Regions from separate parts of the Homo sapiens genome. Here region 2 is linked to region 1. The links come from fine-mapping of genetic effects on gene expression. Tissue or cell type: whole blood. Region 1 holds a variant in brackets; the other region holds the start of a gene. All regions are shown on one strand. Distances are between the middles of the regions.

Region 1 (8,103 bases):
GTTATGCCCTTTTACTTAAACTAAGTTCCTTTTTTGGTAGCATGAGTTTGATAATTTTTTAATTTTTATTTTTCGTAGGATAGTTGTGAGGCTCAGCAATTCAAAATGTATAAAAAGGACAAAAACGACCAGGCGCGGTGGCTCACACCTGTAATCCTAGCACTTTGGGAGGGCAAGGTGGGCGTATCACCTGAGGTCGGGAGTTCGAGACCAGCCTGACCAACATGGAGAAACCCTGTCTCTACTGAAAATACAAAGTTAGCCAGGCGTGGTGGCGGGTGCCTGTAATCCCAACTACTTGAGAGACTGAGGCAGAAGAATCACTTGAACCCGGGAGGCGAGGTTGCGGTGAGCCGAGATGGTGCCATTGCACTCCAGCCTGGGCAATAAGAGTGAAACTATGTCTCAAAAAAAAAAAAAAAAAAAAAAAGACAAAAACGTAAGTGTATGGTATAATTGTGAGGTGTTAGTTGATGGCAAATAAGTGTTTTCTTTTCCCTTCTCCATACATGCTGAGATGATGTTGTCCTTCAAATATGAAGATAATTATACAAGATAATGCCACTTGAAGGGAAAAATTTCCAGGAACAGTAGCTAATGTCTACTGAGTGCTAACTATGTATCAAGTAATTTTTACTTGCATTACTTTATTTCATCTTTATGATAATTACATGCTACTTTTATAAGGTAGAGAACAGAGTTGAGGCTAACAGCAGTGGTTTTCAGTCCAGGGCAATTCCCCAGCTCCACACCCTTAGGGGACATTTGGCAATGTCTGAAGATGCTTTTAATTCTCACGACAGGGGGGATGGGGGAATGCTACTGTTATATAGTGGGTAGAGGCTGGGGATACTGCTAAACATCTTCCAAAGCACAGGCAGCCCGCACAACAAATAATTATCTGGCCCCAAATGTCAATAGTGCTGAGGCTGAGAAACCCTGACTTGCAGAGAACTCAGCCACCCTGGCTAAGGAATTCACACTCTTTTTTTTTTTTTTTTTTTTGAGACAGGCTAGAGTGCAGTGGGGCAATCACAGCTCACTGCAGCCTCAATCTCCTGGCTCAAGGGGTTCTTCCACCTTAGTCTCCTGAGTAGCTGGGGCCACAGGCATGCCTCACCATGCCCAGCTAATTAAAAAAATTATTTGTAAGAAGGAAGTCTCACTGTGTTGGTCAGGCTGGTCTCAAACTCCAGGACTCAAGTGATCCTCCTGCCTCAGCCTCCCAAAGTGCTGGGATTACAGGCATGTGCTACTGCACCCAGCCTCACACTTTTTTTTTTCTTTTTTTCCATTTGGGAAGTCATTTCAAAGCTGATTTATTAAAAGAATATCATGCTTTTTCCACTTGGGGCTGGGGCCAGCATTTAGCAAAATTCAGAAAGGAGACATTTTTTTCTTTGCTATTCCTCCTCTTGTTCCTTTTTAATGCTCTGTTCTGGAGTGGTCTCCTCTGTCCCTAACTTATGGTTCTACAGCCTTGGTACTTAGGAGAATAGATCCCACCTCATTCCTTCTATCCTACTTCCAAGTGCCCTTAAAATGTACTCATCCATCTCCCAGCACTTAGGGAATCTGAAAAAATAATCCATGCTCCCAGGAGAAGGCTACAGGGCTTTGTGTCCTTTTACCTTCTTAGCCGAGCCTCCCAGTAAAATAATAATAATGCCTCCAAGCAGACAGGATCTAAATTATCAGCTAAATGTTCAGTCTTAAATGAGGAGACTGATGCCATCACAAACAGCTTGGTGGGGGCTTGGAGGTGGTATTTTGGGACAGAAAGAGAGAAACGTACGCTTTTAACCCCTATGCTATACTGTCTCCACTGAGGGCGCAAACACAGACACACACACTTTCACTCGCACCCACATATGCACACACATACACACACCACAGGTGCACACACACCCTGAAGGTGGGTTCAGGTGTTCAGCATTATTGTTCTTCCAGTTTCTCAGATTCTAGGATGCTGCTAACAAAAGCATGGCAGGGACTGGTTTTTGTTCCATGAATCCAGGGGAGGGGCCTGTATGACTGCCCTAAGGCTTCACCTTGCGGGAGCCGCAGTCAACAAAGCAGGCTGAGGATTTAACGTTTTACCATCCTTGTGCAGTGCAAGAGAAGCTTGTCAGCCTAGGATGTCTCTTAAAGTCTGTGCCACAGACCTTGTTCCAGATGAGGACAGGTGTCGGGATTCCGATGACCTCACAGCTCAAGTACACCTGGGCACCAGTGACATTCCAGATGTCCTTGGGGGGCGTCACTATGGAAGGACCTGCAGGAGAGGGCACAAAGCCAAAGTCATCTTTTAAACAGTCCTTCACATGAGTCAGCATCTTAGGGAGAAAATAATAATTTTGTTTATGAGGCCATCCCCTTGATGGATTATCTGAAGCAAATTTCAAAGACCACACTGGCTTCCTCCTGCCACCAACATGATTTTAAGGTCCACTTTGGGAATGCATAAATCTAAACAAACAAAAACAATTAGGAAGAAAAATGTGTTATTAAAATTTTCTTCTTCCCCAGACCATGCTTAAATGAGTGCTAATTTACCAGCTGTTTTTTTATTATCTGGGACTTTTCCAGTAGTAATAAAATTTTAGTTCCAAAATGTTCAATGTTTTTCTTCTTTTGTTTACCACTATTTCTATTTTGGGTTGGAAAGGCAACAAGCAACCGCTCCATGGGTAATGAAGAAAAAAAATCTAAGAGAATATTTGAAAATGTGCTAAGCACCCAGACAAGATGGAAGTCTCTGCCTCAAGAAGCTTAGGATCTAAGGTTGAAAAGGGTGATGAGGCAGGGAAGAAAAGAAACATGTGGAGTGCTGTGTGCGTCAGGGGATTGGAAGGGACATCTTTATTTTTAATTTAATTTTATTATTATTTTTTTGATACAGAATCTCATTCTGCCACCCAGGCTGGAGCGCAGTGGCTTGATCATAGCTCACTGCAGCCTCAAACTCCTGGTCTCCAGCGATCCTCCCACCCCAGCCTCCCGAGTAGCTGGGACTATAGGCGTGCACCACCATGTCAGTTAATTTTTATTTTTTATTTTTGTAGAGACGGGGTCTTGCTATGTTGCCCAGGCTGGTCCCGAATTCCTGGCTTCAAGTAATTCTCCTGCCTCAGCCTCCCCAACTGCTGGGATTACAGGTGTGAGCCACCATGCCTGGCCAGGAGGCACCTTTGAACAGAAGAGGCCCGGGTGTCGAGGAAGGTGGTACAGGGGTCCTTCTTCCAGTGTGCTCAGGAGAGGCAGCTGGTAAGAAGGAAGAAGAGTGACTGATCTATTGGGTGTGACCAGGGTCCCCAAGGAGAGGGCCCTTTCCCAGCGTTCTCAGTGTCCAGGTCCCTGGCAGGAGGCATTGGCAAGTGGGGGGCACCCTCAAGCCACGGCCTAAATAGAGTCAGCAGGTATGGGGCCACTGAGAGAGGCCAGAATGATGCTTCTCCATTCCCCCAATTAGGGAACACACCCCCCACCTTCTGTATCATGGCACCCTCTGGAGAAGTTCCCTACTCAGAGTCAACACAAACCATGTGTATCCTTTTTGCTATGAAAGTGGTATGACTCTCTGGTCCTGGGTTAGCTAACTATGGCCTGTGGGCCAAATCTGGCCTGCCATCTGTTTTTGCATGGCTTATGAGCTAAGAATGGTGTTTGGATTTTTGTTTTTTTAAATTAAGAAAAATTTTATTTTTTTGAGACAGAACCTTACTCTGTTGCTCAGGCTGGAGTGCAGTGGCATGATCTTGGCTCACGGCAACCTCCGCCTCCCGGGTTCAAGCTCAAGCAATTCCCATGACTCAGTCTCCCAAGTAGCTAGGACTACAAGTGCATGCCCAGCTAATTTTTGTGTTTTCAGTAGAAACAGCATTTTGCCACGTTGGCCAGGCTGGTCTCGAACCCCTGAGCTCAAGCGATCCCCCCACCTTGGCCTCCCAAAGTGTTGGGATTACAGGCGTGAGCCACTATGCCCGGCCTGCAGTTTCAAATGGTTGAAAAAAAATTAAAAGATGGATATTTCATGACGTGTGAAAATTGTAAAGGAAATGTCCATAAAATAAAGTTCTGTTGGAACACAGCCACACTTATTTGTTTCCTGTGGTCTCTGGCTGCTAGAGCAGTTGTGGCTGAGACTGTATGGCTAAAATAGTCACTGTCACTGGCCTTTTATAAAGAAATTTGCTGATTCCTGCTCTAATCAACTGAGGGAGACTGATGCCTAAATAAGACATTATGGGAAAGTCTCAGGACTTCAATCCTTTACACATTTTCCAGAGCT[G/C]ATGCAAGTAACCCCCTGGGTGATTTCTGGTTTGGCTCTGAAACACAAAACTGTGGAAGCCAACAGATACCGAGAGAGCGGGTGCTTGCTGACTGCGCCTGTCCCCTGACGGCCTGGCTTCCCGGCATCTGCAATAGAGATGTGAACACCAACTTTTTAGTTACTGGTAATTAGTATGTCACTTCTGCTAATTCTGAATGCCAGGGTTCAATCACCAGGGGCCTTCAGAAAGACTTGGGACCGTCCGCAGAGGAGGGTCATGGAGCTGGCAGTCTGGGATCCTCATGTGGGGCAGTGTGAGACTCCAGAACCTAACCTGGCTCTTATTCCATGCTTAGCATGGTTTCTTGAATGAATAAATTAATGATCCCTTCTGAATTTTAAATCTCTGCTGACTTGGGTCTCCTATCCTAGCAAAGTACAAACTGCAGGGTCATCTTGCATCAGAGTCCTGGGAAAGGGACAACCTCCCCTTTAGGACTGGAAAGTTTTCTGGCATAATCAGCATTCAAAGGACATAAAGTCTCCCCTTCTGCAACAGGCTATTTCCAGCACAATATTAATTTCTTGAAACAGAAAGGAAATGACCCCAGTGTGCAAGATTTTCCCACTCATCTAAAGCATTAGAAGCTGATTTTTTTTAATCTCATGGGATATTTTTATTTTTGTAGGAATGTGCAAAACAATCAAAAGTTTGGAAAGCTCTAAATACATTTCATGCTTCCTTCCCTCCAAACCATAGGTCTGAATAGGAAGCATATATCCTGGCCAGGGGGCTTGGCTCTTCTGCTGCAAACATGAATGTGGTGAGCACAGTGGTGCAGTATTTACGTTTCTGGCTCTGTCTCAGACATTTCCTAGTCTGGATGCAGCAATACAGAACCCTGCAAAGGGCTGGGCCTCACCCTATCCCGGGCTTCCTCTAGGGCTATGGGACCCCAAGGGTTTGGACACCACAGAGCCGGATCTGGCTGGGCTTTGAACTGCCTTCGCCCACCTCTCTGATGGCCCTCATGCTGCTCTGTTCTCCTTCCCACACACAGACTTGGCAGGAGGACTTCAAAGCTCAGGGGATCTCAAAGGATTGTTCTGAGAAGAGCATACCAGTTTTCAGAGATTTGAGGGGGAGCTCGGGAACAAAGCTGCTTCTCTCATATCCAAACCACACAAGGAATGCAAGACAATTTTATTGTGAGGATCTGAGGGCCTCAGCCCTGCCAAAACCTACTTACTTTAACCTGTGTCCATCTCCCTATTGCCAATACAGGTAGCAGGGTCATCGGTCTTGGGCAGGGGGCAGATTCTGGAGTGCTAATGGGCAAGTTCCAGCCTGATTTTCTGCCAGAGATCTTGAAGACATGCTATGGATTTTTCCCATGGGATTTTAAAACAGATGTTCTTAGTTTTAGTATAGTCCAATTTATCAAGTTTTCTTTTCTGTGGTTAGTGCTTTTCGTGTCCTGTTTAAGAAAATTTTTGCCTAGCCCAAGGCTATGAAGATCTCCTGTTTTCTTCTACAAGCTTTATGGTTTTACTTTTCACATTTAAGTTTTTGCTCCATCTTGAATTAATTTTTGTGTGTGCTATGAGGCAGAGGTCAAGTTTCATTTTTCCTCCCCTAAAAGGACATCCAATTGCTTCAGCACCATTTGTTGAAAAGACCATCTTTTTCCTAATGAATCATAATAATGCCTTTGTGGAAATCTGTAAGACCCACTGTATATGTGTGCGTCTATTTCTGGACTCTCTGTTCTTTTCCACTGGTCTATGTGTCTATCTTTGCACCAATAACTATGGCATAATTTAGAAATTAATTGTACTAAAGTTGAAGCACTAAATAGAGGGCAGATCTAATATATCTGTTCCCCCCCAATCATCTTACTATTCCAAGAAGCAGAACACTCTAGGACAAGTAAGAATTCTTTTTTTATTTTTATTTTTGTAGAGACAGAGTCTTGCTATGTTGACTAGGCTGGTCTCAAACTCGTGGGCTCAAGTAATCCTCTTACTTCAGCCTCCCAAAGTACTGGGATTATGGGTGTTAGCAACAGTGCCCAGCCATGAATTCTTTAAAAATACCTGAACCCAGGAATACTTTGAATGACAGCCATCGTCAGGGGATTCAATATTAGGACAAATCATATCATGGGTTCCTATTTCTCTCTCCCAATGCTTGGAATACCTTAGGTAAACAGGCTGAGTCAACATTTGGATTATTCTAAGAATGTAAATGATTTTGTCAATCCTGCCACCAGGCTATTTCTAGAATTCTACAAGACTTCCATACCACAAAAATCTATAATATCCACTGACTCCTGCTGGGGTGATGTAGTGGAAGGGCAGAGGAGGGGCTGTTAGGACCAGTTTGCTGCACAACATTTACAAAAACCTTTGACTATTTCAAATATCCTTGAACAAATGCTGGGTTTACTAACACAATGAAAAGTTTAACAAACAATACGTAAACTGGAAAGTGCTAAGAAATAAGGCTACAGAACGGCCTTTTGGTTTTGAGATGCAGTCTCTTGCAAAGGAAAGTCACATCAATAAATTATTAGTGTAATATTCAAGGGACCAAACAGACCTCTTAGAGTACATGGAGGCGGGTTGGCCTCCACGTGACTTCCTGTGTTGGAAGAATCTGTAGGGATTCAACATTCTTTCCAGTACTTTCTTCAGAGCTGATACCCAGTAGGATACCTATTTACTAAGCTCTGATTGGTTCTTTACCACTTACCTGGTCTGGAAATTCCCCCAGAATATGCAGAGGGAATGGAAAAACTCCTTTTTTTTTTTTTTAGATGGAGTTTTGCACTTGTTGCCCAGGGTGCAATGGTGTGATCTCGGCTCACTGCAACCTCTGCCTCGTGGGTTCAAGCGATCCTCCTGCCTCAGCCTCCCAAGTAGCTGGAATTACAGGTGCTCGCCACCATGCCTGGCTAATTTTTGTATTTTTAGTAGAGATGGGGTTTCACCATGTTGGCCAGGCTGGTCTTGAACCCCTGACCTCAGGTGATCTGCCCACCTCAGTCTCCCAAAGTGCTGGGATTACAGGTGTGAGCCACTGCACGCGACCAAAATCTCTTGATAAAAGCAAATTACAGAAGTTTTAGAGAAAGGTAAATGAAGATACATGGTGAGAAAGAATAAGCAAGCGACTTAATGGTGACCCACAGGGACACCAAGAGGACAAGTCTTGTATAGAAGAGAAGAGATGCTGAAAATGTTTTCGGTGGATACAATGCCAGCCCCAACAATGCTGCACTCTCCTCCCCGACTCTCAAGAACTATCATCCCACACATTCCATTGATCAGCAATTTCACTGCCAACAATCATCTTGAATTGCAGGTCTGTCCTGCAATTCAATCCCTGACAGTTCTGTTCTACCTCAGGAGAGCACTGTACTCAATGACTCTGTACCAAATAACTTCTAACTCTTTCCACTCTACCTTTCTTCCAAGAAGGGCAAGGCAGATCGAGAATTTATTTCTGTTTTTAAGAATAAAGAAATTTTTAGGTCACTCTGAGCTAATTTTCTCATACAGAAAGCTCAAAATCAGTCCTCAAGGCCAGGTCAAGGGTAATAACAACATTATCATCTAACTCATACTCAGTGTTTGGATTCCGTTTAAAACAGGTCACAGAATTCTTAAATGTATAGGGACAAACATCAGGATAGGTCCAATTATTTATTTATCCTTGCCCTTGTTCCATTAAGAGCTCCAGACTGCTCAAACATCTGTCTAGCAAACATCCTGTTCATAGAATAAATGACTGTGCGCTGCCTCCCTCTGCCTTGTACCCACCCTCG
Region 2 (8,103 bases), 67 kb after region 1:
GAATAATGACAACAATTAATGTTCATCCACGCTTTCTATGGATAATATTCATGACATTTAATCTTCATGACAACCCTATGAGATAGATAATGGTTATAATCCCTGTCTTATAAGTGAGGAAAACCCTGGGCAGACAGGTCAAATAACTTGCTCAAGGCTATAGTTAGTAAGTGGTCAAGATTCACACCAAGGGAGTCTGGCTTGAGAGCTCCTCATCTTAACTTCTCTGCTATACTGCCTCTTATATACAGATACACAGTACACGTGGAATAAATATTAGTTGAAACAATGGCTGGATGCATAGCTCTAGAAGAACAAATACATCATTTTGGGGTGGGGGAAAGTCAGAATGCTTCTCAGAGAAACTGACAGAGCTGATCCTTGAAGGCTAGGTAACAGCCCATTTTTTAAATTTTTTTTTTTTTTTTTGAGATGGAGTCTTGCTCTTTTGCCCAGGCAGGAGTGCAGTGGTGCTATCTTGGATCACTGCAAGCTCTGCCTCCCAGGTTCACGCCATTCTCCTGCCTCAGCCTCCCGAGTAGCTGGGACTACAGGTGCCCGCCACCACGCCTGGCTAATTTTCTGTATTTTTAGTAGAGACGGTGTTTCATTGTGTTAGCCAGGATGGTCTCGATCTCCTGATCTCGTGATCCGCCCGCCTCGGCCTCCCAAAGTGCTGGGATTACAGGCGTGAGCCATGGCGCCTGGCTGCCCATTTTTAAAATTTTTATTATTATTTTTCTTTCATGTCAGACAGGTAATGTGCCAATGTCATAAAAGGTTTGGGGGCGACATACCTCACACATGTGTATGAACACTCAATCATCATGCTTATGAACTACAAAAGGATCATAGGCAAGAGTTCAAAGGATGGAAAGGAAGTGAAGGAGGGTGCAATTGTGGTGAGTGTGGAGGTGAGAGGCGTTGCAGGCAGAAGGCACAACTTCTACAGAGGCATGAAAGCATAGAGACATATGTGCTGAAGTGTGAATAGCAGACACTTACTGTGGCTAGTGCATAAAGGAGGTTGGAGAGAAGAGGTCAAAATAATAGAATGGAGTTATATTGTGAAGGGCCTGTTATGTCCTGCTAGGTAGTTTGAACTTGGTCCTAAAGGTACTAATAAGGGAGACCCTTAAGAATGACATTCTGATTCCAGAAGTGAAAATTAATTCTGAGGGAGAAAGGATGGTACCTAATGAGACCAAAGCGGCTGAAATGGGATTGCCAAAGAGCTCAGATTTAAAAGACTTTGAACAAAAGGTATAATCAGTAATTGGAATACAGAAGCATCATGTTCTCTTCCAACTATGAAATTTTATTATATATCTTAGCTTCTTTGTATCAACTTCTTTTTATTAAATGGAATCTTCAAATTCCCCCTTCTGGTTATCCATGACTTCAGGGACCTCAATACAATCTAATGGCAGTAAATTCATAATGACAGTTCCAAGATTTGAAATTATTTGCTGATTATCTTTCAGACATATTTTCAAGCAGATCGCTTTGCCTCCTACCAGAGAGGTATGGAAAACAAGCAGACCAAGATCTCTTCCCAGTTGGGTAAGTGGTGATCTTAGAAAGGAGGAAGACTGGGGCAAGCTCCAGGGCTCCAGGGCAAGTGCTCTGGGAGGTGAGTTTGTAACTTGTACAGATACTTTCTTAATCAGCAACATCAAATCTGTTTTGTACATCCCTGGTATATAGCACCTAGTACAGTGCTGACTCAAGTTAGCTGCTCAATAAATGCATGTTAAATGGAACCAAAGACCAGAGGGCAGATTGAATCACACCATTGTGGCTGAATCCCACAATGCTGCCCCTACCTGGCCCCTACTCAAGTTATACTCAAGCATAACTTAAGTTTCTTCTGAGAATAGAAGGGAACCTAGAGGTCTAGAGGAACCTAGACAATGCATTTCCTATTCTGTGCAAAGCCCCAGTATGAAATGGCACAGAAGTAAATGGCACTCTGTCCAGTTTGCTTCTATGATTGTCAAAACCCATCCAGGTGTCAGAAGAAATATTTAGGGGATGTGATAGGGATCAGTCTATTGTCTCTGCTGTGGAAAGTTTCTGCTGTGGGAAAGGCTTCCCATTCTCTTCTGCTCTCTTTGGCATTCTCCTATAAATGGTCTCTGCCATTTAGAACTCATCTCTCTCAATTTAGGATGAGAAGAAATGGCTAATTTAAGTCAAGGTTTCCAGTTTTAGATGCTGTTTTCTCTAACATTTCCCCAAATATAAAGAAAAGCCGGGCCGGAACCCTCAAAGGGTTTGCAGTCTGGAGAGGTACTGAGCTGGGTGTACATGGTAATGAGGTTATGAAACTGGTTCTATATGACTGTCAGTCTCAATATTTTATAATCAGACTGTGTGAGTGTTTGGTGATGTAAGTAGCAGGTGAGAAAAAGGAATATTAAGTATAAACTAGAAATTGACAACACTTGAACAATCACCAAGCTAACCTTCTGCTCTGATAAGGCAAGTATCTGCCATTTTGAAAAAACTATAAAGTTCCCCATTGTAATGTTTATAAGAAAATCTCAATATTTGGAATAAATTCTTAAATAACGCACATTTATCTTTTCATGATGTGACCGACAAATGAGATCCAAAGTAACAAATAACTGTTTCTATTGTAAACATATGCAGATTATTTTGGGTTGCAATTTTCTAAGTTTAAGGTGATGATACTATAAATAGTTACTAGTGAGTTACACAATTTAAGGCTTTCAATAGTGAACTCTGAAATTGATGACATACAACCTATTAGTTTGTGGACTTCTGGGAAAAGCTCTAAAGAAAGAATTTGGAAATTCTGGAGAAAGTCTGAACTGTGTTAAAGAAGCAACAGCTTCTGTAACCTCAGAACTGCCTCCTCTCCCTTTTCTACCTTGGCTAAGATCAGGAGCTGCCAACATTGAATGTCTGACTTTCCCTTGAAAATACTGCCAATGGAAAATGTTATTTCAGGCATTAGAGTTAAAATTTCTATGTGTGTGTGTATGTGCGTGTATTTGCAAGTCCAGACTTTATTTTCTTCTTTCTTTCTTTTTTTTTTGAGATGGGGTCTCTGTCTGTCACCCAGGCTGGAGTGCTGTCATGTGATCTCGGCTCACTGCAACCTCCGCCTCCCAGATTCAAGCGATTCTCCTGCCTCAGCCTCCTGAGTAGCTGTGATTACAGGCATGCACCACCATGCCCAGCTAATGTATATATATATATTTTTTATTAGAGATGGGGTTTCACCGTGTTGGTCAGGCTGATCTCGAACTCCTGACCTCGTGATCTGCCCATCTTGGCCTCCCAAAGTGCTGGGATTACAGACGTGAGCCAACCCACCCGGCCTATTTCCTTATTTCATTTACAGCAAGCTTGGACTTGTTTGGAATAAAATAAACAATCAAACATAATCTCAAAGACATTTCTGCTGAACAGTGTATCCTGGGGACAAATTATGCAAAACAATACAAATCAAAGAAATAGGAAGGAAAAACAAAATGGTCAGAAGGTTGACAACAAAGTGCATCACAAAAACAGTCTTCAAAGAGTTTGTATTTTATTTTTGCCCACAAATAATTAGCTAGTTAGATTACTGTTTGAGAACCTATAATTTTTAGAAAGTGGACTATTTTCTTCAATACTAAGAAATCAGGGCTGTGCACGGTGGTTTATGCCTGTAATCCCAGCAGGCCGGGATTACTTGAGCTCAGGAGTTCGAGACCAGCCTAGGCAACATAGTGAAACTCCGTCGCTATAAAACAAAACAAAACAAAACAAAAAACCAAAAATTGGCCAGGCGTGGTGGCACAGGCTTATAGTCCCAGCTACTTGGGAGGCTGAGGCAGGAGGATCGCTTGAGGCAGAGGTTGCAGTGGGCCAAGATCGTGCCACTGCCCTCCACCCTGGGCGACAGAGCAAGATCCTATCTTTTAAAAAAAAAAGTCTGTCTGGAAGTCCTTACTTTATATTTAATTGTCAAACTCCTTTCCCCCATCTCTTGACTTCACCTCTCTCTACATCCCCAAGCCAAGAATGATGAGAAATGGACAGATGTTAGCACGAGTTGGGTGCGCTTTGGGCATGGGGAAGTCTGAGGTCTCGGAAAATCTTTTCTACATATACACCCGGCCCTCACTTTCTGGACGCACGCAGCAAACTCTCAAAATAAAACCACCAAAAAGGAGAAGGGGGGGCGTCGCCCACCGCTCCTGGCATTCCGCGGCTGCCAACTCTTTCCCTCCCATCTGGCTCCTGGGATGCCCGCGGGGGAATCGCAGTGAGCAGCGCGGGGCGAGGCCGCCGCGGACGCCCCGTCGGATGTGCCCTTCGCTGGGCCGAGCGGCGCAGGGTTGGAGAGGGAAGCGCTCGTGCCCACCTTGCTCGCAGGTGCCCTTGCTGACCTGGGTGATGGCCTTCTCCCCGCGGCTCTCGGCCCTCTGGCTGGCGGCGCGCAGCTGGCAGCCGCTCGGGTAGGTGGTGCCGTCGCTGCCGCACACCGGGTAGCGGCTCTTGCACACGCACACGCCGCTTACACCCGGACCGCCGGCTGCTGCCCCGGCTTTACCCTTCCGCCTCTTGCGGCTCTTCACGCACTCCATGCCCGGCGCGCAGTACCCCCTGCCGGCGCCGCCACCCCCGCACGGCTCGCCCTCGCCGCGGGCGCACATAGGGCAGCAGCCGCACGCGTCGCGGGTCTCGCCCAGCAGGCAGCCCAGCGGGGGCAGGGGCGGGCAGGAGGCCGGCTCGCAGGGGCCGCAGGTGTCCGAAGAGGAGGAAGAGGAGAGGGGCAGGAGCAGGAGCAGCAGCCCAGCGGCGCCGAGGAGCAGGGCGCGCAGCGACGGCCGCTCCATGGCGGGGTGCGGTGGCAGCGGCAAGGGCGCGAGTGAGCCGTGTCGGGCCGGCCGGCGCCTTAAACCCGCCGCCCCGCCCGGCCTGTCCGCGGGAACCACACCCCGGGGCGGTGAGAGCACGGGGGCCCCGCCCGTGCCGCCCTCCCGGCCCCGCGGGGCCTGCGCGCGCGCTCCTGCTGGCGTCGGGGGGTGAGCGGGCACCCGGCGTGACCGGCCCATGGGCGCTCGGTCTCACGCCCGCTTCGCAGAGCTCACCCCGCCAGCTCCTGCTCGGTCCCCAGTCCCCTGCCCCGAGCCCTCAGGGATCGCACCGCAGTGCGAGCGGCTCTTCCACCCTCTGGTTTCTCCCCGTTTCCGGTCAATATATTTAAACTTCTTAACAACCACGGCTTCGAGACGATCCAGGGTTTCATCTATTAAATCCTCCGTGGGCCTGAGACACCTGAGTGCTCATTACTCTGTGGTTTGGGAAGCTCTCTTAAGAACAAGCTGTTAAAAACCCCCACTTGTGGACTGTGTCCCCGCTGGCCACAGGCCTGCTGTGGTCTTGGGTGTCAAGCACTAAAAGGACAAACCGTTGCCAACCACTTCCCTTTCTGGAACCTCTTAACTGCCTGCACCTCCCTCCCCGCTTTGTCTCCCAGTGGCATTCAACAAGACTCTGTGCTTTTTTTGTGCTGAGCCGTTTTCAGTGAGTACTGGAATCCGTGTGAGAGCTGTGCCCTTGTTTTGAGTTCTTGCTGAACTGCTCGCCCTCCAGCAAGCCTCTCGGGAGAACAGAGCGCAGCTGAGAGGAGCAGGGGTCCCAGCTCCTTCCTCGTTGGAGCTGCCACGGAGGCACCTAAAGCGCCCCCAGTCTTCACCAGCATTCCAGGAGGTTTTTGATATAAACGGTGGACTCTTCCTCAGTCTTTCTGCGAAGTGCTCTGCAAACTCAACTTGAAAGCCTCTCTTCCCAGGAACACTGGCCTCTCCAATGCAGACATGGAAGTTGCTTTCACTTTTTAACTGAATGTGTAACATTGCAGCGTGCATTATTCTGCATGTCACATTGTGGTTCTTTTGTGTTCTTTTTTCTTAGCATAAATCCAGGGATTTACAGGGTTGCTGACTGAAAGCCAGCAGTTCAGTTCATAATCCCATTAGCAGTGTAAAGAACTCATTCTCAACAGACTCTTACAAGGATAATTATTGCAAATTTTTTGAAAATTAAATGACCACAAAATCGGGGGGTGGAGAGTGGGGAAACATCCTCCAATCCAGAAAAACCTAGCACTGCTTTTTGGCCTCTCCTTAGTGTATTATAGACAAGTGGAGCATTTTTTTTCCCCTCAAAGGTCATATGTTGACCTGACAGTTGTTTAAAAAACAATGAAAAATCTTTACAGCAGAGTTTCCCTAAATATTTTTGTCTTTGTTCCATCCTAAGAGATGCAGTTTACATGACCCATTTGTTTTCTTGAAAAGGAAACAAATGCAGAGTGCACTCTATTTCCTATTGTATTTAATTTCTTTCTTTCTTTCTTTTCTTTTCTTTCTTTTTCTTTTTTTTATTTTTTTGAGATGAAGTCTCCCTGTGTCGCCTAGTCTGGAGTGCAGTGGTGAGATTTTGGCTCACTGCAACCTCTGCCTCCCAGCTTCAAACAATCCTTCTGCCTCAGCCTCCCGAGTAGCTGGTATTACAGGCATGCACCAACATGCCCGGCTAATTTTTGTATTTTTACTAGAGACAGGGTTTCACCATGTTGCCCAGGCTGGTCTCAAACTCCTGACCTCAAGTGATCCACCTGCCTCGGCCTCCGAAAGTGTTGGGATTACAGGTGTGAGCCACTATGCCCGGCCCTGATTTCCTTTTTATTAATTCACTGGTCAAGAGCCACTAAATTGGTTCCATGATCTAGTATGACGATCTGTCATAGTTTTAGATTCTCCAGAAGCTTTCTCTGAGACAAGGATTCCAGTGCAAGTAGGTCACCTGAGAAGCCACATCAGGACACAGAGATTGAGGGTTGGGGCAGGCAGGTGAGCAAGCAGGAAGGGAAGACAGCCAATAAAGGTGCTTATCTCCGCAGCCAGAAGAAGCCCTCAGGCTCTACAAACTGTGTGTGTGTGTGTGTGTGTGTGTGTGTGTGTGTGTGTGTTTGCGTGTGTAGGGCATGTGGGTGGGCAGTGGCAGCAGCTGTACACTAAGAGCTGTCACCCACAGTGTGTGGAGGTCCTGCATCAGAGCCAACAGTGAGAATGCAAGCATGTGCTACAGCGGAGTCCCTTTGAGGAACCTCCTCACTGCCCAGCAAGCAAAGAAAACAAGCAAGTTTCTGGTCACTGAAAGGGGAACCCGAGCTCTGTGATAGTGCCAGTCGAGCTGGAGGACCTGAAAACAAGAAGAGATGTTAGAAAAAAGGCAGGTGAATGGAGCCTTTAAAGAGCAAGTTGACAACTCCACCCTTCCAATAACAGATATATTGTCACCTGTTCAGCTTCAGTTTTAGTGAGGTGGAGAGGCTGGATGTGGAGATGGAGATATTTTTACTTCTTCCTGTTTAATTGGTGCCTTTTGTTTCTTTTTCTTGCTTAATTGCCCTGGTTAGAACCTCCAGTATAATGTTGAATAGAAGAGGTGAGTGGACACCCTTGTCCCAGTCCTCACCTTAGAGGGAAAGTTGTTAGTTTTTCACCACTAAGTATGAAGTTAGCTGTGGGCATTTCATAGACAGTCTTACCAGGTTGAGGAAATTCCTTTCTATTCTGTTGATTGTTTTTCATCATGAAGTGGTGTTGAATTTTCTTTTCTTTTCTTTTCTTTCTTTTTTTTTGAGACGGTGTCTCGCTCTGTTGCCCAGGCTGGAGTGCAGTGGCGCAATCTTGGCTCACTGCAACCTCCACCTCCCGGGTTCAAGCCATTCTCCTGCCTCAGCCTCCTGAGTAGCTGGGATTACAGGCACATACTACCCCGCTCAGCTAATTTTTGTATTTTTAGGAAAGACTGGGTTTCATCATGTTGGTCAGGCTGGTCTCGAACTCTTGACCTCGTGATCCGCCTGCCTCAGCCTTCCCAGAGTGCTGGAATTACAGGTGTGAGCCATCACGCCTGACAGAGAGTACATTTTAAATGTTCTTGCCTCAAAAATGATAAGTATGTGAGGTAAAGAATATGTTACTTAGCTTAATCTAGTCATTCCACAATACATACATATATAAAAACATCATGTACACTGTAAATATACACAATTTTTTGTGAATTAAA

Evidence for each region. PIP is the estimated chance that this variant, and not a neighbour inherited with it, causes the effect.
Region 2: it holds the start of IGFBP7, and the variant in region 1 is fine-mapped to the expression of IGFBP7 in whole blood (INTERVAL, PIP above 0.99).

The regions. Positions count from the first base shown.
Region 1 is chr4:57,038,659-57,046,761 of GRCh38, forward strand. It overlaps IGFBP7 (insulin like growth factor binding protein 7), which reads right to left. Exons shown (of 5, transcript NM_001553.3): 2 at 2,166-2,275. Among named protein-coding and RNA genes, the nearest start is that of POLR2B, 64 kb to the left of the region's middle. The variant G/C (reference allele first, on the strand shown) is at 4,292.
Region 2 is chr4:57,105,496-57,113,598 of GRCh38, forward strand. It overlaps IGFBP7 (insulin like growth factor binding protein 7), which reads right to left and starts at 4,890. Exons shown (of 5, transcript NM_001553.3): 1 at 4,382-4,890. The coding sequence starts at 4,856. IGFBP7-AS1 (IGFBP7 antisense RNA 1) reads left to right here and starts at 4,267. Exons shown (of 5, transcript NR_034081.1): 1 at 4,267-4,475. It overlaps LOC124900898 (small nucleolar RNA U13), which reads right to left and starts at 850; the gene lies at 748-850. RefSeq lists a silencer at 4,959-5,028.